Regions from separate parts of the Homo sapiens genome. Here all the other regions are linked to region 2. The links come from fine-mapping of genetic effects on gene expression. A gene starts in region 2. Each other region holds a variant in brackets. All regions are shown on one strand. Distances are from middle to middle.

Region 1 (5,194 bases), 890 kb after region 2:
CATGAGCCACTGTGCCCGGTCTAGTCTCTTCCTTTTCATATAAGAACACTAAATCCATCCTAGAGGCTCTACCCTCACAACCTAATTACCTCCCAGTGACCCCACCTCCAATACCATCCCACAGGTGGGTTAGAGTTCAACATATGAATTTGGAGTGTGAGAGAAACACAAGCATTCAGTCCATAGCAGAGCCCAATTGTGTCTTTAATAGAATTCATACTAAGCTGCATTTCCAAATACATTTTCCTGTGCTTTTAACTCCATTAAAATAAAGATTCATGAACACAAAACAGTAAAATCAGTAAACCAAACTCCACTCCTGCTGGCTAAATAATATTCCTCCGTAAGAATTGGTGGTTGTTGGGACAATTTCTTGGATTTATTGCCTTTCCCGCTTGCTTCTGGCCAGCAGGATCCCCACAAGGCTTGCGGCAGCCAGCAGGCCTGCTGCCACACCTACTGTCGTGACTGCACCAGTGACCTGCAGCAGAAGAGAAGGGAGAGCACACTCAGCATCAGGGCGGGACCACGATACATACACCAGGAAACTACAGCTCAGGAAAGACTCATCTGGCCCAGTCCTCTTCATTTGAATCACAGAGGGAACAAATATTGGCTGGGAGAGGGGATGCCAAGAGGTCAGGCCACCCAGGAAAGAGGAGTGGAGATGTCTGGTGGGCACAGAATGAATGGAAGAATGAAGCCATAGGCGTGATATACACAGAGTCAAAGGAGGAAAACCAGATGCACCTGTGGGTATTAAAAGCATAATAGGTCGGGCTCAGTGGTTCACACCTGCAATCCTCACACCTTGGGAGGCTGAGATGGGCCGATTGCTTGAGCCCAGGAGTTCAAGACCAGCCTAGGCAACATGGTGAGACCCCCATCTCTACAAAAAAATACAAAAAAAAAAAAACAGCTGAGTCCAGGTGGTGCACACCTGTAGTCCCAGCTACTCAGGAGGCTGAGGCAGGAAGATGACTTGAGCCCAGGAGGCGGAGGTTGCAGTGAGCCAAGATTGCACCACTGCATTCCAGCTTGGGTGACAAAGTGAGTCCCTGTCTTAAAAAATAACAATAATAATTAAAGCAAAAAGCATAGTAAACCCCCAGCAAGGACAGAGGGGCAGTGCCCCAATGTTCTAGGTCAGGGCTGGCTGACTGGGGCCCTTGAGGCAGATATGAAGTTGGGAAATCACCCCTGGGAACTCTCACTACACAGGCTTGAGGGCAGGGAGCTCGCCTGGATTGGTCTCAATGTCCCAGGTGCTGATCCCACTGCCAGGCACAGAGTCGGCACTCATAATTCATCTGCTGAACAAATGCTGGCCCATGAGGAGCATTGAGGGTGTGCTTTAATGAGTAAGATTGTCTCACTTATGTGCTGGCAGGAAATGGTTCTGCAAAAGGAAGAAGAAACTGAAAAAACCACAGAGATGTGAGGCCGACCCCCGAGGGTTGGTGTGCTCGGCACAGCTTTTGGGAGCTAGCCGAGACAGTCTGCTGCGATCCTGTGGGTCTGCCCTGCCTGGGCCACTGTCTCTGAGAGACTAGCACTGGAGCGACTGGGGGAAACAACACGGGGTGGGGGGTGGGGGTGAAAACTGTGAGAATGGCTGCTTTCTAGATATCAGCACTGTGCTGGGAACTCTCCAGGCCCAGTATTTTTTTTAATCTGCCTGACAACTCTAGGAGGTAGTGATTCTAATTCCTACTTTCCAGAGGAGAAGACTGAGGATGGACAGTGTAAAGAACTCACGCAAAGGCCGGGGGGGCGGTGGCTCACACCTGTAATCCCAGCATTTTGGGAGGCTGAGGTGGGCAGATCATTTGAGGTCAGGAGTTCGAGACCAGCCTGGCCAACATGGTGAGACCCCCGTCTCCACTAAAAAAAATTAGCCAGGCATGGTGGCGGGTGCCTATAATCCCAGCTACCTGGGAGGCTGAGGCAGGAGAATTGCTTGAACCCAGGAGGCAGAGGTTGCAGTGAGCCAAGATCACGCCACTGCACTCCAGCCTTGGTGACAGAGTGAGACTATGTCTCAAAAAAAAAAGAAAAAAAAAAAAAGAACTCACGCAAAGCCACACAGCTGACAAGTGACAAGGCTCAGATCTGCCTGACTTCCCAACAGGGGCACTTAAGCCCTTCACAGACAGGGAAGCAAGTATTTAAACCAGCGACCAAA[T/C]AGCAGATTTCTGTGGAGTATCAATGAATTTGAAGCATGTGAGTGACTGGGGAAAAGAAAGGGGGAAAAAAAACCATTTTATTCAAATACACTCAGAATTGTTTCCAAGTGTCAAAGACAAACAAAGCCAGACATAACTTAAGACAGCAAAAACAGATTTGATTCAGTCTCTACTGACAGCAGGGAAAGAGCTGAGCTCCATTCCAATTTGTGCAGAGGTGACTGACATTGTAAAGGGAGATGGAGGAGTAGGGAGACGGGTGAGCGAGGGCTCATAGAGTCAGGGAGGTGAAATATTACAAAGGATTAGTCCCTGAATATGCGATGAGGCCAGCTGTGTCTGCTAGCTGGCAATTATCAAAGTTAGGATTCTAACCTCCCACGGATATTGGGGACAGAGGCTCTATCCTTCCTGATGATTATATTTCAAAGGACTGGCTCTCAGGTCCTTGAGGAAGGCACTTCAGAGTTGTAAGGGATATACAGTCAGCCCTCCATATCCATGGATTCCACATCCATGGATCCAATCAATTGTGGATTGAAAACATTTGGAAAAAAAATTTTTTAAAGAACAATAAAAAATAATACACATTTTTAAAATACAGTATAACTACTTACATTGCATTGAGTATTATGAGTAATTATGAGTGGCTCATGCCTGTAATCCTAGCAGTTTGGGAGGCCAAGGCAGGTGGATCACTTAAGCCCAGAAGATTGAGACCAGTCTGGGCAATATGGTGAAACCCCATTGCTACAAAAAAGAAATACAAAAATTAGCCGGGTGTGGTGGCGTGTGCCTGTAGTCCCATCTACTCAGGAGGCTGAGGTGGGAGGATCCCCTGAGCCCAGGAAGGTTGAGGCTGCAATGAGGTGAGATCACATTTCAGTGAAGCACCTCTGCACTCCAGCCTGGGTGACAGAGTGAGATGCTGTCTCGAAAATAAAATAAGTACATGGGAGGATGTGCACAGGTTATATGCAAATATCATACCATTTTATACAAGGGACTTCAGCATCCATGGATTTTGGTGTCCTCAGGGGGTCCTGGAATCAATCCCTTCCCCACCCATGGATACCAAGAGATGACTGTATCTATGTTTCAAAGGGACAGAGGAAGGATTCATAATTATAAGTCCTTTGTAATAAACAGTCTAAGAAAGGGTCAGGGTCTTTGTCAGGTGTTCGTTAGAACAAATGGTAAATTCTCCTGGCAGCAGAGAGCTTTCTTAGGCAGGCATTTATCGGGGGGCTAGGGTCATCCTACGGACACAGCCTTATTTTGCCAGAAGCAGTGCTAGAGCTTGGTCATCTATTAGAGCAGGGGCTGGATGGCGTTGTTGTGTGCCAAGAGTCCTGCAGCTTTCACAAGTCCACTTTCTTACAGAGCAAGAGCTAGAGACAGACAGAGGAGAGTCTTTCCAGACAGACAGAGTCAGATGAGAAGGAAGGAGGGAGAGGAAGAAAGAAAGGCAAGTTATTGGGTGACCTGCAGGAGATGAAGTTCAACAAGAGAGGCTCCAGGACAAGGGACAAACTAAATAAAACTGCCTCCCCTGAGTCTTCCCCATTGGCTTGAGTTCTGACCCCTCAGAAGCATAGCAGAGGGCCAACCACTTCCTAAAATTGGGGTCTTCCAGATTGATTTTGTGGCTTCTGCACAGCCTATAGAAGAGCTTTTAGATGTATGATAAGGCAGCCCACCCCCAATCCCCTTCCGACACCCCTCCCATTCAGAGATAGGTCTACCCTCCTCAGCTCAACAGAGGGGAGACCCTGTCAGCAGGGTTCCCACTGAGTACCAGAGCATGTCCCACCGTGCCCCAGTGCCCAGCATGGCCTGGCAGTCTCTCAGTTAATAGCGTGGTCTCCCTCCTGGGGTACTTGTTTCCAGAAGTTGTGGATTTTCCTTACCCATCTCCCCTTTTTATCACCTCTCCTTCTCCTATCATACAACAGAACAGCTAAATCCTCCCACACCCTGAATCTACGGTGCACAGGCTAAGGTGTAAACACTCCTAGTCACCAGTAAGGGAGGATTCAAGAATGCATTGCTCCTAAACAAAGAGGGCTTCAGAAAGGAATATGCAACCACGTCGAGGCTCCTGCCTCATCTGTCTGCTGCTTTAGAATGAGAATTCTAAAGTGAGATGGTTATCATGAAACTGTGCATTAACACACTCATTTGAATTGAAAAATTGTCAGTTTTTTTCTGAACGTCAAAATAAGCCTGATTAGGCTGATTGGTTTGACAATAACACCTGGCTCGGCTATTTAAACTACACGGAAGACATTTTTCCCTAACTGAATGAGCTAAATGTGCAACTCCAAGATTGTGAAGAAAACATGTACACAAATATGTAATATGCAATATACCAAAATCCATCCTTTCCTTTACAAATTTTTTACATTTATGATTTTTTAAAGTGTTTGATGTCATCTAAGAATGTATGAGGGGATATGTGGTTTTTTAAGTTATCTTGGACTGAGTGTGGTGGCTCACACCTGTAATCCCAAGGGAGGCCGAGTCAAGGGGATTGCTTGAGCCCAGGAGTTCAAGACCAGCCTGGACAACATGGCAAAACCTCATCTCTACAGAAAAATCCAAAAATTAGCCAGGCATAGTGGCACATTCCTGTAGTCCCAGCCACTCAGGAGACTGAGGTGGGAGGATTGCTTGAGCCCAGGAGGTCGAGGCTGCAGTGAGCCATGATCGAACTCCACATGATATACTGCAGTCTGGGTGACAGAGTGAGACTCTGTATCAAAAAAAAAAAAGTTTGTGAGACCCTGTATCCAAAAGTTGGCCAACTATGGCCCATGGGTCAAATCCAACCTGTGAACTATTTTTGTAAAAAATAAATAATACACTTATTGGAAGACAGTCTCGCCTGTTCATTTATATATTGTCTGTGGCTGCTTTTGTGCTGCAAACTACGGCAGCAGGGTAATAAGACAGAGAACACCTGGCCCATAAAATCGAAGACATTTACTATCTGGCCCTTTACAGAA
Region 2 (5,174 bases):
CGAGACAATGGCTCACTCTGTTGCCCAGGCTGGAGTGCAGTGGGACAATCTTGGCTCACTGTAACTTCAACTTCTCGAATAATCTGTATCTTTGTCATAAATGGAAAGTTAGAGTATCACTCACTAAGGAGACAGATGAGATCACAGCACACTACAGCCTTGAGTTCCTGGCCTCAAGCAATACCCCGGTAGGCAATCTCCGCCTCCCGGGTTCAAGCGATTCTCCTGCCTCAGCCTCCAAGTAGCTGGGATTACAGGCGTGCACCACCACGCCCGGCTAATTTTTTGTATTTTTAGTAGAAACGGGGTTAGCCAGGCTGGTCTCGAACTTGTGACCTCAGGTGATCCACCTGCCTCGGCCTCCCAAAGTGCTGGCATTAGAGGCGTGAGCCACTGCACCCGGCCAGGCACCACCACTCTTGAGGGCAGAGGCTGGCATCTTGTTGCATTTGCACAAGGAAGCTGTGGGTACTGCTTCCTCACTGTCTTGTTTCCATACTCCCCAATCTTTTCATGACCCATCCCCATTCCTACATTTAATCACACACATCTCAGAGTGCTAGGGCTTTATTACAAATGGAGTTGACTGCTAGAGAGGCCCTTCTCCAATCTTTCTTCTGTACCTTCTTCCCTCCCAAAGACATCCCTCTAGGGGAGGTCAGTAGGCCATTAGGTAGGAGGAAATCTGGAGAGTGAAAAGGGGCCTTGCTTTTGTCAAAGTCCTCTGAAACAACCACTGAGTCTGAAGGCTGGCTCCAGTTGAGAATCTTCTAGTGGAAGAGGTTTAGCTCTCATCTTCAAGGTCCTTCATTTCTACATCCTGGGGGGCTTTTGTCTTCTTTTGCCTTTTGAGCTGTGGTTCACTAGTCCTGGCTGGCTTTGAAGGGGCTTCCACTGAGTAAAGGGAAGAAGGAAGTATTATCCCAAATAAATCCAGGATTCCCCTCACCCACCTCTGTCCCAGCCTCACCTTCCATGGCTGTCTTCTCTTTCTGGGCAAGCCGGATCTGCTGGAGGAGTTTTCTGCGCTTCTTCCCTGACAGTGTAATGTTGGCACGTGCACTGGACCTGATGGGTAAGTGGAAATAAAGAGAGCTAGGTTAACCTGAACCAACTGAGGTCACACAAATAGTTCTGGCTATAGAAAAAGTATTAAATAGGCTGGGCGCAGTGGCTCACGCCTGTAATCCCAGCACTTTGGGAGGCCGAGGCGGCTGGATCACGAGGTCAGGAGATCGAGACCACGGTGAAACCCTGTCTCTACTAAAAATACAAAACATTAGCTGGGCGCAGTGGCGGGCGCCTGTAGTCCCAGCTACTCGGGAGGCTGCGGCAGGAGAATGGCGTGAACCCAGAAGGCGGAGCTTGCAGTGAGCCGAGATCGCGCCACTGCACTCCAGCCTGGGCGACAAAGCGAGACTCCGTCTCAAAAAAAAAAAAAAAAGGAAAAGTATTAAATAAATATAATATAAATAGTAATAGAAACCCTAAATATTTACATTGAAGAAGCTAATGAAAGGACATAGATCGGGGGCGGTGGCTTATGCCTGTAATCCCAACACTTTGGGAGGCTGAGGTGGGCGGATCACCTGAGGTCAGGAGTTCAAGACCAGCCTGGCCAACATGGTGAAACCCCGTCTCTACTAAAAATACAAAAATTAGCCGGGTGCAGTGGGGAGCACCTGTAATCCCAGCTACTCGGGAGGCTGAGGCAAGAGAATAGCTTAAACCCAGGAGGCAGGGGTTGCAGTGAGCCGAGATCATGCCACTTCACTCCAGCCTGGGCAACAGAGGGAGACTCTGTCTCAAAAAAGAGGAAAAAAAAAAAAAAAAAAAAAAAGGACACAGAAAGTAATTAATGGGATGGGAACTCTTCCTCAAGACACAGGAGGCCTTGAAACTTACAAGTGAAATCCTATGAGTGCCTTTGGGAAAATTCTTCGAGTTTTATGCGCCTATGTGTGCACTTTTCTGTATGTAAAAATAAGTTTACTTATAAAAATCTGTGTGAATGTATAACATTACTTGGAGAATGGAGAGCCAACAGATTTCCTGATATTCTTTTTTTTTTTTTTTTTTTTTTGAGACGGAGTCTCACTCTGTGGCCCAGGCTGGAGTGCAGTGGCGTGATCTCGGCTCACTGCAACCTCCGCCTCCCAGGTTCAAGCAATTCTCCTGCCTCAGCCTCCCGTGTAGCTGGGACTACAGGTGCCGGCCACAACGCCTGGCTAATTTTTGTATTTTTAGCAAAAACGGGGTTTCACCATGTTGGTCAGGCTGGTCTCGAACTCCCGACCTCAGGTGATCCGCCCACCTCAGCCCCCCAAAGTGCTGGGATTACAGGTATGAGCCACCATCCCCGGCTTTCCTGAGATTCTTAACAGAATCCAAAACCCAAAGAAAGGTTGTCTGCTACAGGTATTGTGAGAGGCTATCAGAGCTTAGGAACTAACAGCCGACAGACATTCCCCGCATAAGCGTCAGTGCACAAGGTGAGCTGAGAGGTGAAGCTGCTCCGGAGCTCTGCAGGGAGGAAGGAAGACTCGGTGGGGACGACCAACAGGAAGAGGGTCTAGTACTTACGCCCGCTTCTTGAGGTGGTGCCGCGTGATCAGCCCTTGGTCTATCACAGCCCCGACCACCCGGTGCCTCAGACGCCGCTCCCGATTCAACACCCGCCGGCGTTTGAACAGCTTCTTCTTCAGCTCCTGCCGGGGAGAAAGATGCGAATCAGATGGAGTGGGCTCGCCGCGACCCGGGGCCCCTCCACCAGGCAGCCCCGGCCCCTCACTGATCCCATCTCGTGCGAGATAAAAGGGCTCAGGAACGCTTGAGGAAACAAAGTCGCGGCCCCCACACAGTCACCGTTCGGGGCCGGTTGATCTTTCCCCCCGGAGCTCCCATAGTCGCGATTCCACTCCAGTTCACGGTCCGTACTTCCGCTCAGCGCCGGATCCGCGGGGCTCCGCCCCGGCCTTCCGCGGGCCAATCGCAACTCGGGGGCGGGTCCTCGGGCTATATAAAGGAGCTCCGCGGTGCGGGAGGCCTTTCGGAGGGTGGTGAGCTAGTAAGTGTGGTTTTAGCTGTAGTAGCCAGATTGGGCGGCCGGGAGTGGTGGGGGTGCCGGGTGGAAGGCTCTGGGCGGGGTCTCAGGACCCTCCTTTTCTTGGCGGGGATCGGGCTTGTGGTGCCGCTCCCCGTAATGTACGGAGGAAGAGGGAAAGGGCTCTGGCCCCCTCGGCGTCATGTCTTCGGTGCTGGCGGCTTCCCATCCGCTGGTTCTATCCTCAAACGCCGGGACACCGGGAATCTCGGAGAAGGACAACCGAGATCCAGCTGGCTCCTCCATCGGGGTGCTCACACTTTCTCATTTGATTTCAGGTCTGCGGACGCTGTATACCCTCCTCCACTTCCCGCTGCAGCCAATAAAGGCCGTTCCTACCATAGTCTGTGTCCGCGTTCTTTTTTCCGGGACTGCAGAGTTCGGGGAAGCTGTACGCCGCCTTTCGCTACGCGGAATTTGCAGATCTTCCCCTGGACCTCAGGCCTCTCCGGCTGGAGTAGGGTGGACGCTTCACATAAGCTTCTCTGGTCGAACTTACCCGAATCTCCAGATGGCCGCGCTGCGTCGAATGCTCCACTTGCCGAGCCTGATGATGGGGACGTGCCGCCCCTTTGCGGGTAGGGAGGTGGGGGCAGAGTGGAGAGGGCAAGGTGGGGGCAGAGTGGGGAGGGTAAGGTGGGTTCCTCGTGAGTCAGGAGTGTAGTCCCTGAAATTGTGATTCTCAAACCCTACGGTGGGCCGTGCGTGGTGGCTCACGGCTGTAATGCTAACACTTTGCCAGGCCGAGGCGGGCAGATCGCTTGGCCCAGGAGTTCGAGACCAACCTAGGGCAACATAGCGAGACCCTGTCTACAAAAAAAATTAACCGGGCACGATGGCGCCTATAGTCCTAGCTACTCAGGAGGCTGAGGTGGAGGCTTCAGTGAGCCATCATTGTGCTACTGTACTCAACCCTGGGTCACAGAGTGAGACCCTGTCTCAAAAAAAAAAAAGACGCCAGTGTGTATATACGACGTTTTTGCAGTGGCGACATAGACCAAGTGACACCCTCCAACCGTGCCCACAGGCTCACTGGCTGATAGTTGCCTGGCGGACCGCTGTCTCTGGGATCGGCTGCATGCCCAGCCTCGTTTGGGCACTGTCCCCACCTTCGACTGGTTCTTTGGATACGACGAAGTCCAGGGGCTCCTACTGCCATTGCTGCAGGAGGCACAGGCTGCCAGTCCTCTGCGAGTGCTGGATGTGGGCTGTGGGACTTCCAGCCTATGTACAGGCCTCTACACCAAATCTCCACACCCAGTGGATGTGCTGGGGGTGGACTTTTCTCCTGTGGCTGTGGCCCACATGAATAGCCTCCTGGAGGGTGGCCCAGGCCAAACACCTCTATGCCCTGGACACCCTGCCTCAAGCCTCCACTTCATGCACGCCGATGCTCAGAACCTGGGGGCTGTGGCTTCTTCAGGCTCTTTCCAACTACTGCTGGACAAAGGCACATGGGATGCTGTTGCCCGGGGAGGTCTGCCTAGGGCTTACCAGCTTCTATCAGAATGCTTGAGGGTTCTAAACCCTCAGGGGACCCTGATTCAGTTCTCAGATGAGGACCCTGATGTGCGACTGCCCTGCCTGGAACAAGGGTCCTATGGCTGGACTGTGACTGTGCAGGAGCTAGGCCCGTTCAGGGGCATCACCTACTTTGCTTACTTGATTCAAGGCTCTCATTAAAGACATTTTAGTAGTCCTGACCCTAGTATTTCTGTGGGCAAGGAGAGGGCTGAAGAACTGTCTTTGCAAGCTATCTGGCTGCAAAGTGAGAATTTGAGTCCTGGCTTCCACATTTACTAGCTGGGTGCCATATTGCTGAATGTTTCTGTTCCCCAGTTTACTCATCTGCAGAGTGAGAATAACTTGGAGTTACGGAGATTACATACAATGATGTGCGCAATATTTAGCACAAAATGAATGCTGAAAAGAGAAGGTACAATTGGGTCATTCCCCAGTTTCAACTAACTGGAGCTCCTAAAAGCAGCAGACAGGAACTGAATCAAAACCCCTGCGCTGACTGACTTGTATAATCTAGTGGCCTAACCTGTAAGCCTCATTTTTGTCACCT
Region 3 (5,194 bases), 200 kb before region 2:
TAGAATAATAAACTGTTTATAAACAACATACCTGTTAATTATTTGTATACTCATTATGATCCCTAAGTATCTCTTTTAAAAGACCTGGTTTACTTGGTTATGCAAAGCCTAGATCATTCCTTGCAGCTTATTTCAATACATTTAAATTATATCCAAAACTTAGCCAGGCCTGGAGGCGCATGCCTGTAGTCCCAGCTACTTGAGGGGCTGAGGTGGGAGGATCACTTGAGCCCAGGAGGCAGAGAGGCAAAGGCTATAGTAAACCATGTTCATGACGCTGCACTCCAGTGTGGGTGACAAAGTGAGATCCTGTCTTAAAAAAAAAAAAAAAAACTTAGAAAAATAGTATATCCTTGAAAGTAATATAATTGTACTTCTTTAAAAGAAAACAAATTCTACAATTCAAACTTTTGCAGTGATCACATTAGAAAGTATACCCTATAAATGCCTTAAATTCTTGGTGTCTGTAGTCTCTACCTCGCCTAGCATTCCAAAAATCCCTCTTGAGGCTTGGCGCAGTGGCTCACGCCTGTAATCCCAGCACTTTGGGAGGCCGAGGCAGACGGATCACCTGAGGTCAGGAGTTTGAGACCAGCCTGGTCAACATGGGGAAATCTCATCTCTACTGAAAATACAAACATTAGCCGGGCATGGTAGCGCGCGCCTGTAATTCCCGCTACTCGGGAGACTGAGGCAGGAGAATTGCTTGAACCCGGGAGGCGGAGGTTGCAGTGAGCCAAGATCACACCACTGCCCTCCAGCCTGGGCAACAGAGTGAGACTCCGTCTCAAACAACAACAACAAAATGCCTCTTGAAACAGTCAAGCCTTTTGACACCAAGGAAATCATCTTAGCTGTGATTGGTTTGGAAAAAAGAGAGGGACACTCTCAGGCAACTCCCAACACCCTACTAAAACTTTCAGCAACACATCTCTTCAGTATATATTCAGTGGCCCAAAATGTCATTTTCTCAGACAAATGGCTGCATATCATTCACTTCTTTGAAGTTCAGTTCAGCTCACAAAGTACTTCCTGAAGCCTTATCTCAGGTCAGACACAGTGCCGGGGTCAAGGGCTCAAAGATGAGTAAACAACACAAGGTCCCTGTCCTCTAGAATCTTCTTCCATTGAGGGATGATGATATTAGTTATATTAATTACATGGTGATTTGGCTGGGCACAGTGGCTCATGCCTGTAATCCTAGCACTTTGGGAGGCCGAAATGGGCGTTATCACTTGAGGTCAGGAGTTTGAGACTGCCTAGGCAACATGGCAAGACTCCGTCTCTACTAAAATACAAAAACTTAGCCAGGTGTGATGGCACGCGCCTGTAGTCCTAGCTACTTGGGAGGTTGAGGCAGGAGAATCGCTTGAACCTGGGAGGTGGAGGTTGCAGTGAGCTGAGATGGCCCCATTGCACTCCAGCCTGGGTGACAAAGCGAGACTCTGTCTCCCAAAAAAAAGAAAAAAAAAAAAAATATATATATATATGGGGATTTTATTCACAGAGACAGACTACAGTAAGAGCTAGGGTTGGGGTGCATAATGTATGGGCATGTGTGTACAGGTTGCTAAATAAAATTATAGGAGGCCATTGGTTTGGACTGAGCTCCTGCCCTAGGCCCAACAGATCAAACCAAAATGGAATTATTCATGCTCAAGTTCCACACCACCAAGCCAAAACTGTTCATCTGACCTTCTGAGAAATCAGGAGAAAGAGGGATAACAGCCGAATCCTCAAAAAGGCCAGTTTCAGCCAGCATGATAAGGAAGTGTCCTCTGCTTTAGCCTTTACAAGGAGGTCAAACTTCCCATGCTGATCAGTAGTGGGACTGTGCCTGTGAAGAGTCACTGCACACCAGCCTGGGCAACATAGTGAGACCCCATCTCTAGCTTAAAACAAACAAAAAAATTAAACCCTTTATAAGGACAGTAACTCTGAGACGACCCATCTGCTTTTTGTTCTCTGTTTCTGCTTTCCTCAGCTCTTTTCTGTCTTTAAAGTTAACCTCCTCTGCTCAGCTTCTTGGAACATTCATTTCATTTTGTAGAATAAGACACTGCATGATTCTAGAACTGCAAATAACAGCCAATTGGTTTGTTCTTTTTTGTGTATATGGAGAACGAGGTCTCACTATTTTGCCCAGGCAGGTCTCAAGCGATCCTCCCACCTCTGCCTCCTAGCTTGGTGTGAGCCACTTAGCCCGGCCCAATTGGGATCTCCTGATTTCCTTTTTCTTTTTTTGAGTCGGAGTCTTGTTCTGTTGCCCAGGCTGGAGTGCAGTGGTGTGGTCTTGGCTTACTGCAAACTCTGCCTCCTGGATTCAAGAGATCCTACTGCCTCAGCCTCCAGAGTACCTAGGACTACAGGTGCATGCCACCACACCCATCTAATTTTTATATTTTTAGTAAAGAGGATGTTTCACCATGTTGGCCAGGCTGGTCTTGAATTCCTGTCCTCAAGTGATCCACCTGCCTCAGCCTCCCAAAGTGCTGGGATTACAGGCGTGAACTACTGCGTCCAGCCCCAATTAGGATCTTTAACTAACTAAACATGTTGTAAT[TTTTG/T]TTTGTTTGTTTGTTTGTTCGAGACAGAGTCTCACTCCATCACCCAGGCTGGAGTGCAGTTATGCAATGTCAGCTCACTGTAACCTCCGCCTCCCAGGTTCAAGCAATTGTCGTGCCTCAGCCTCCCTAGTAGCTGGAATTACAGGTATTTGCCACTACACCCAGATAAATTTTTTTGTATTTTTAGTAGAGATGGGGTTTCACTGTGTTGGCCAGGCTGGTCTTGAACTCCTGGCCTCACGTGATCTGCCCACCTCAACCTCCCAAAGTGCTGGGATTATAGGTGTGAGCCACTACGTGGGGCCTACGTGTAATTTTTGTCTTTTGACCAGATATAGCAATAGGTAATTCCACCAGGGGGAGAGGTGTCAGAAACAGAGAAAGTAACCTGTGAAACTGATTGAGTTCACAAAGTGGACAAGATAGGAAAAACAAAAAGCACAGTTCATCAATGTGTGTACTCAATCATAAACCAAAAATCACATGAAAAACCTCATAGGGTTTAGAGAATAACTCTCATAACTAGAGCTCTGGCCCCTAGCTATCAAAACCACAAAAGTTGGCCACGTGCAGTGCTCACGCCCGTAATCCCAGCACTTTGGGAGGCCAAGGTGGGCGGATCACAAAGTCAAGAGATCGAGACCATCCTGGCCAACATAGTGAAACCCCATCTCTACTAAAAATACAAAAATTAGCCGTGTGTGGCCAGGTGCAGTGGCTCACGCCTGTAATCCCAGCACTTTGGGAAGCTGAGGTGGGCAGATCACAAGGTCAGGAGTTTGAGACCAGCCTGACCAACATGGTGAAACTCTGTCTCTACTAAAAATACAAAAATTAGCCAGGCATGGTGGCATGCGCCTGTAATCCCAGCTACTCAGGAGGTTGAGGCAAGAGAATCGCTTGAACCCGGGAGGTGGAGGTTGCAGTGAGCTAAGATTGTACCACTGCACTCCAGCCTGGGTGACAGCAAGACTCTGTCTCAAAAAAAAAAAAATTAGCTGGGCGTGGTGACACACGCCTATAGTCCTAGCTACTCGGGAGGCTGAGACAGGAGAATCGCTTGAACCCGGGAGGCGGAGATTGCAGTGAGCCGAGATCGCGCCACTGCACTCCAGCCTGGGCGACAGTGAGAGACTGTCTCAAAAAACAAAAAACAAAAAACAAAAAGCTGAGTTTAAAACCCATCATCCAGATGCTCATTAATGCAGCCACAGAGTGGGGCTTGGGTGCTGATTAAAGAGTCCGACAGTGATCATCCCAGGTGGGCAACATCAATTTCAATGATGACTTCCACCAGATCATCATCTCCCACCAACCTCCATCTGTCACCTCTTTTTTCTTTCAGGGAAAAAAAAAAACCAAAACTTCTAAACAGCCACATTGTTCACAATAATCCAGTGCTTACCCAGCTGCTGAACTTCAATAGAAGAACTAAATAATACAAGATGCTGGGCCTGTTCCAGTCCCCCGAGACCTGACCGTCCCTGCTGGACAACTCAGATGCCTCATCCACCTGGGGTCAACCCCTGCAAGCTGAAAGAACGTCAGATTTTATTTATACCAATACGAAAGAAGGCTTTGGGGAGAAACTTTTGTCAGGCAAGAGCTTCAGCCTCCTGCATCCAGCTGCAGGGATGATGGCCCATGGGGAGGTGGCACACCTCAGAGGAGTCTTTTTCTGACTGCAAACACAGTCCAAGCTACCCTGGAGCAGAGTTTCTTAATAGTGACGCCTTTGACATTTTGGGCCAAAGGATTCTTTGCTGTGGGAGGCCGTCCTGTATGTTGCAGGATGTTGAGGCTACTAGGGGGGCTTTGGTTGTCGCAACTAGGGGGGGCTTCCACTGGCATCCAGTGGGCAGAAGGCACGCCAGGCTAATTTTTGTATTTTTAGTAGAGACGGAGTTTCGCCATGTTGGCCAGGCTGGTCTTGAACTCCTGACCTCAGGTGATCCGCCCACCTCAGCCTCCCAAAGTGCTGGGATTACAGGCATAAGCCACCATGCCTGACCAATTTTATACAATGTTTTAAATAATTTTGTGCATTAAACAGAATTTTGACTGTGACCTGTCACATGAGGTCAGGTGTGGAATTTTCCATTTGTGGCATCATGTCAGCACTCAAAAAAGTTTGGGTTTTGGGACATTTTGGATTTCGGATTTTTGGATTAGGGATGCTCAACCTGCACTATCACTGTACATGTTGCAAATGGGGAAGGTGAGGTTCAGAGCCCAGTAAAGGCCTGCTTGGGGGCCAGGCAGCCCATGGCAGGTGAAGCCGGACATGCCCTGAGGCCTGGGTGTGGGAGACTGGCCGGGATGCGGGTACCCACAGGCACCCCTCAGCCCCGCACACTGGCAGTTAGGAGAAAGAGAATGGCAGAGAGAAAGGGATCTGAGAAAAGCAAGAAGAGCACAAATGAAGAAAGGGAGAGGTGAGATGGACAGGGAGAGGGGTGGAGAGATAGAGGAAGGCCCATCTGCCCAATCCCTGGGTGACTTAAGGGCTGCTACGACCACTCGCCCCAGGGTCTGGGTCATCTCCCCTTGGAGCCAGGAGGCTGCCCATGACCCGGGTCCTCCTCAGGAGGAAGCACGCACAGCCCCCTTGTTGAGGCAGAGGGCTG
Region 4 (5,000 bases), 31 kb before region 2:
AACAGGGTTTCACAATGTTGGCCAGGATGGTCTCGATCTCTTGACCTTGTGATCTGTCCACCTCGCCCTCCCAAAGTGCTGGGATTAGAGGTGGGAGCCACTGCACCCGGCATCATCTTGCTTATTATTTTTATTTTTCAAACGTTTTTATAGAGATGGGGTCTCGCCATGTTGCCCAGGCTGGTCTCGAACTCCTGGCCTCAAGCGATCCTCTTGCCTCAGCCTCCCCAAGTGCTGGGATTACAGACATGAGCTATCATGCCCGGCCCCATCTTGCCTCCTTTGTTATGTGTTTAACGTGTCTTCCTCCCTGTGAGTCAGAACCTTTCTTTTTTTTTTTTCTGAAACAGAGTCTCACTCTGTCACCCAGGCTGGAGTGCAGTGGTGAAATCTCCGCTCACTGCAACCTCCACCAACCAGATTCATGCAATTAACCTGCCTTAGCCTCCCGAATAGCTGGGATTACAGGAGTCCGCCGCCACACCCTGCTAATTTTTGTTTTTCTAGTAGAGATGAGGTTTCGCCATGTTGGCCAGGCTGGTCTCCAACTTCTGACCTCAGGTGATCCGCCCACCTCAGCCTCCCAAAGTGCTGGGATTACAGGCATGAGCCACCACACCCAGCCCAGAACCTTTTCAACCTCAGTTAACACTATATCCCCAGCACCCAGAAGAGTACCTAGCACGTAACACACTGATAATAAGTGCATTCCGTCAGCCCAGAATAGGCAATGCCTTCCCTAAGAATGTGAGTGAGCGTGTCACCTGGGAGTGATTAGGGAACTCAAATGCTGCCCACCAGGCCCACAGCCCCTTCTTAAACCCAGTCCCCAAATAGCTAATGCCCCTAGTATACCTATTTGCCTCAAGGCCTGGAAGCTTCACTCCCTCCTTTTTCCCCGTGCCTGTGCTCTCACCTTCCCGGCAGTGTTGGAAGATATATCAACCCAGGTCTCTGCAGCATTGAGCCAGAAGATGCCCAAGTCGCGATGAGGGTTGTGTGCCAGGAGCACAGGCACAGACCCATACAAGGCCATTGGGTTGTACAGCTCATACTGGAACACATCCAAATTGTAGAGGCGATATGGCTCCCCACCCCTGCAGGCAAACAGACAGACTTGGGCTGCTAACTGGCCCCAGGCTGCGTTATATGCTAACACCACTCCACAGACACAGGTGAGAGATAAGCAAAGGCTCCTCTTGTCCTTTCTCAAAAAATTTTCTATCACCAAAGGTGATTCTGGACACAAGAAATGACCCATGCTTGCCTAGAGTATCCAATATGCACACCCATCTCCCTAAAGGCCTGACTCCTTCCTGCCCACCTCCATCTTCCTGATGTCACCATAGGACTCACTCAGTGACCTTCAGCCTCAGGTTGTCTGCATGCTCAGGGATCCCATAGACATGCTCCATGCCTGGCAGAGAGAAGTCCAAACCCACAGACATGGGGCCTGGAAGAAAAACAAACAAGCTTCAGAGCTTCTGCTTGGAAAGGAGCCCTGCACCCCAGCCCAAGGAACCCGAGCCCCTCACCATACGGCTTGCTGTCAGAGTGAGTTTTGAATGTCTCCTCCCAGGCTCCTGGCTCATCTTTCTCTGCCTTCCCCTGAGTCTCCTCTGGCTGTTAAGAAGAAAAGAGGACCACTCTCCAATCATACCAGTTCTCTCTTTCCCCGCTCCCATCAACTAAATCCCATCCCTGATGGGGAGACTAAGTTCAAGTTTCTCATGGGCCTCTCCCCTCCACCCTCCCAGCCAGCCCTATCCTCCAACCACCCACCCGCTCCAACTTGCCTTGTCGCCATCCCTGGGTGTTTCCTCAGGCTGGGCCCCATCGCCCTCAGCTGGGTCTTTTGATCCTTGCCTGGAAGGTAGGAGAGCTGTCTGCTCCAATCCAGAGGGGGCAGGGACGAGGGGCTAGTGGAAGGAGGGGTTGGGGAATAGAGAGCCAAGGGTCCAAAGGAACGAAGGCATTGGAGGAAGGGACTAAATGTTAAAGCTTGGAGAGGGAACCCACAATGAGCAGATAAGTTTGCAAAGGATGGGGAGAGAAATGAGAAAGGAAAATGAGGAATAAGTGCCACCAGGAGGCACAGGCCTGAACACCAGCCTCTGTCAACATCCCAGAAGAGAAAGGCAGAATGATTCAGGGGCCTGGGTTATGAATGCCAATCCTGGCTCTGTTGCCTCTACTGAGAGATTCTGGCCCCAAGTGCTCTCCCTGGGCCTCAGCCTCCTGGCCTGACACAATGGCTTTGCAAAGGCATGTGGGTCATACTATACCAAGCCTCTACAGACATACATAGGGACTTCAAGAGATTCTGCCAAAAAATGCTTTCAAGGGCAAGTAGCTCTGCCCAGAACCTCAGGTGCCCCTCAGCTGAGAGTCAGGAACCCCAGCAATAGGCAGCATCTCTCCATCCCCTGGCAAAGCAATAAGCTCCCTACATTCCCGAAGGACCTGACTTTCAGTATCTCACCTTCCTTCTTCTGGGGGCTCCCAGCCAGGGTAACAGGTAACAGGACCAGACATCACACAGCAGGGGAAAGTGGGGTGAGTGAAAGGCTGGAAGGGTCTGGGGCACCTCCCCCC[A/G]AAGGCTAGAGTGAGGAATGGGTAAGGGCAGAGGAACAGATACAGTACCGGTGGCCATGGATTTACCTAGAGAAAAGGTTCTTGATCTTATCCCATATGCTACCAAGCGTGAGATTAACCTTATCCGAGAAACTGGGGCAGGAGGAGATGGGTAGGGAAGGGGAAAAAGAGGCACAAAACCAACACAAAAACAGAAACATAAAAGTGAGTTTCAGTCGACAAACTTCCAGAGATGGGGGGAAAAAGAAACCAAAAAAAATAAATAAATAAAAACGAAGAAAATAAATCTGGGAAATGTGATGATGTGAGAAGGGGAAGAAGGAGACACAGACCCAGGCAGGCCTCCCAGAGATGCCCAGGGTACAGCTCAGGGACAAAAGTGACTGCCTCCTGGTCTGTACAGGAAATGGAAAAAACCGCACCCGGGTCTGGTTCCTACCCTCCCTGACAGAGAGCTTCTCCCAGCCCCCAGGCCCTACCTGGCTGTCCCACCACCGTCTCCTCCCCGTGCCAGACCTCACAACACCCCTATGCTCTTTCACACTAGGTTCCCTGCAGTCCCAACCCCTGTACTCACGAGACCCTAGGGGCCCTCTGATGCTCAAACTCCAAGAGTCCTCGGGCATTGACACTAAGCAAAAGACTTCGGTCCTCTAGTAGGTCAAGGCGGAATGGCCGTGCTGTCAAGATGATCTTGTAGGGTCCCTCAGCCATGGTTAACTCCACACTGTTCTCATCACGACCAGAGACAGAAAGCCTGGGAAACATATCAAAAGAAATATAAGGAAGTACAAAGGGCCAAGAGGAGTAATGACACTTTAGAAGACCGGGGGAAATCTACCTGTTAAGAGAAATAGGCAGTGTGGTAACAGAGCAGGGATAGACAAGTTAATAAACAGAACCAAAGGGCCCAGAAACAGACCCAAGCATATTTATTACTTTTTTCTTTTTTTTTTTTGAGACGGAGTTTCACTCTTGTTGCCCAGGCTGGAGTGCAATGGCGCAATCTCGGCTCACCGCAACCTCCGTCTCCCAGGTTCAAGCAATTCTCCTGCCTCAGCCTCCAAATAGCTGGGATTACAGGCATGCACCACCACACCTGGCTAATTTTGTATTTTTAGTAGAGATGGGGTTTCTTCATGTTGAGGCTGGTCTCAAACTCCTGACCTCAGGTGATCCACCCACCTCGGCCTCGCAAAGTGCTGGGATTACAGGCGTGAGCCACTGTGCCTGGCCACTTATTACTTTTTTAAATGTACTAAATACTAAGAGGTGGCATAGCAGATGAGAGAGGAAAGGAGAACTATTCAAAAATGGAACTGAAAAAACATTTTCCATATAGGAAAAAAAATGATTTTCCAAATATGAAGAAAAATGATGTACTTCTTTTTTTTTTTTTTGAGATGGAGTCTCGCTCTGTTGCCCAGGCTGGAGCACAGTGGCACAACCTTGGCTCACTGCAACCTCCACCTTCCAGGTTCAAGTGATTCTCCTGACTCAGCCTCCCTAGTAACTGATATTACAGGCAGGTGCCACCACACCCGGCTAATTTTTTTTTGTATTTTTAGGAGATATGATTTTTCGCCATGTTGGCCAGGCTAATCTCAAACTCCTGACCTCAAGTGATCCACTTGCCTCGGCCTCCCAAAGTGCTGGGATTACAGGCATGAGCTACCACGCCCAACCCCTTGATATCATATTTCTATCTAATACCAGATACAAGTATCAACTGCAGAAAGATTATGACTTAAAAAATTTTTTTTTCTTAAGATAGTCTCACTCTATCACCCAGACTGGAGTGCAGTGGCACAATCTCGGCTCATTGCAACCTCTGCCTCCCAGTTTCAAGTGATTCTTGTGCATCAGGCACCCGAGTAGCTGGAATTACAGGCGCCCACCACCACGCCCGGCTAAGTTTTGTATTTTCAGTAGAGACGGGGTTTCACCATGTTGACCAGGCTGGTCTTGTACTCCTGACCTCAAGTGATCTGTCCGCCTTGGCCTCTCGAAGTGCTGGGATTACAGGTATGAGCCATCACACCCAGCCTGCTTAAAATTTAAAAGTAAAAGCTTTAGGATGGGCTCGGTGGCCCACTATTGTAATCCCAGCACTTTGGGAGGCCGAGGCAGGTGGATCGCTTGAGCCCTGGTGTTCAAGACCAGACTGGGCAACATGGCAAAAACCCATCTCTACCAAAAATACAAAAATTAGCCAGTCTCATAACCCGATCTCAAAATAAGTAAATAAATGAAAGCAAAAGTGTTAGAAGAAAATTAAAAAATATATTTTTGGCCAGGCATGGTGGCTCATTCCTGTAATCTCAGCACTTTCGGAGGCCGAGGCAGGTGGATCATGAGGTCAGGAGTTTGAGACCAGCCTGGTCAACATAGTGAAACCCTGTCTC

Which allele goes with the higher level. Positions count from the first base shown, and alleles are read on the strand shown. Sizes are in standard deviations (SD) of each study's normalised expression. Not every link is listed here.
For the expression in gastroesophageal junction of the gene that starts at base 3,047 in region 2, allele C in region 1 goes with a lower level than allele T (large effect, 0.90 SD a copy in GTEx).
As copies of T replace TTTTG in region 3, the expression in lung of the gene that starts at base 3,047 in region 2 goes down (large effect, 0.85 SD a copy in GTEx).

What was found. PIP is the estimated chance that this variant, and not a neighbour inherited with it, causes the effect. A credible set is the group of variants that fine-mapping cannot tell apart.
Region 1: its variant is the best candidate, but not a certain one, in a credible set for the expression of CSKMT in gastroesophageal junction (GTEx, PIP 0.89).
Region 3: its variant is the best candidate, but not a certain one, in a credible set for the expression of CSKMT in lung (GTEx, PIP 0.72).
Region 4: its variant is the best candidate, but not a certain one, in a credible set for the expression of CSKMT in whole blood (TOPMed, PIP 0.76).

The regions. Positions count from the first base shown.
Region 1 is chr11:63,552,585-63,557,778 of GRCh38, forward strand. PLAAT2 (phospholipase A and acyltransferase 2) reads right to left here. Exons shown (of 4, transcript NM_017878.2): 4 at 186-481. The coding sequence ends at 380. Among named protein-coding and RNA genes, the nearest start is that of PLAAT2, 8.2 kb to the right of the region's middle. RefSeq lists an enhancer at 1,391-1,510. The variant T/C (reference allele first, on the strand shown) is at 2,186.
Region 2 is chr11:62,662,266-62,667,439 of GRCh38, forward strand. CSKMT (citrate synthase lysine methyltransferase) reads left to right here and starts at 3,047. Exons shown (of 3, transcript NM_001043229.2): 1 at 3,047-3,067; 2 at 3,382-3,681; 3 at 4,131-5,174. The coding sequence starts at 3,615. The coding sequence ends at 4,786. It overlaps LBHD1 (LBH domain containing 1), which reads right to left. Exons shown (of 7, transcript NM_024099.5): 5 at 2,584-2,708; 6 at 971-1,068; 7 at 552-894. The coding sequence ends at 864. It overlaps C11orf98 (chromosome 11 open reading frame 98), which reads right to left and starts at 2,945. Exons shown (of 4, transcript NM_001286086.2): 1 at 2,866-2,945; 2 at 2,584-2,708; 3 at 971-1,068; 4 at 552-894. The coding sequence starts at 2,904. The coding sequence ends at 785. It overlaps SNORA57 (small nucleolar RNA, H/ACA box 57), which reads left to right and starts at 3,157; the gene lies at 3,157-3,305. RefSeq lists enhancers at 3,165-3,394, 4,065-4,174, 4,225-4,274, 4,295-4,394.
Region 3 is chr11:62,466,896-62,472,089 of GRCh38, forward strand. It overlaps a transcript of AHNAK not described here. Among named protein-coding and RNA genes, the nearest start is that of SCGB1A1, 50 kb to the left of the region's middle. The variant TTTTG/T (reference allele first, on the strand shown) is at 2,564.
Region 4 is chr11:62,631,649-62,636,648 of GRCh38, forward strand. It overlaps GANAB (glucosidase II alpha subunit), which reads right to left. Exons shown (of 24, transcript NM_198334.3): 5 at 3,173-3,352; 6 at 1,797-1,866; 7 at 1,536-1,623; 8 at 1,357-1,453; 9 at 917-1,097. Among named protein-coding and RNA genes, the nearest start is that of B3GAT3, 12 kb to the left of the region's middle. The variant A/G (reference allele first, on the strand shown) is at 2,596.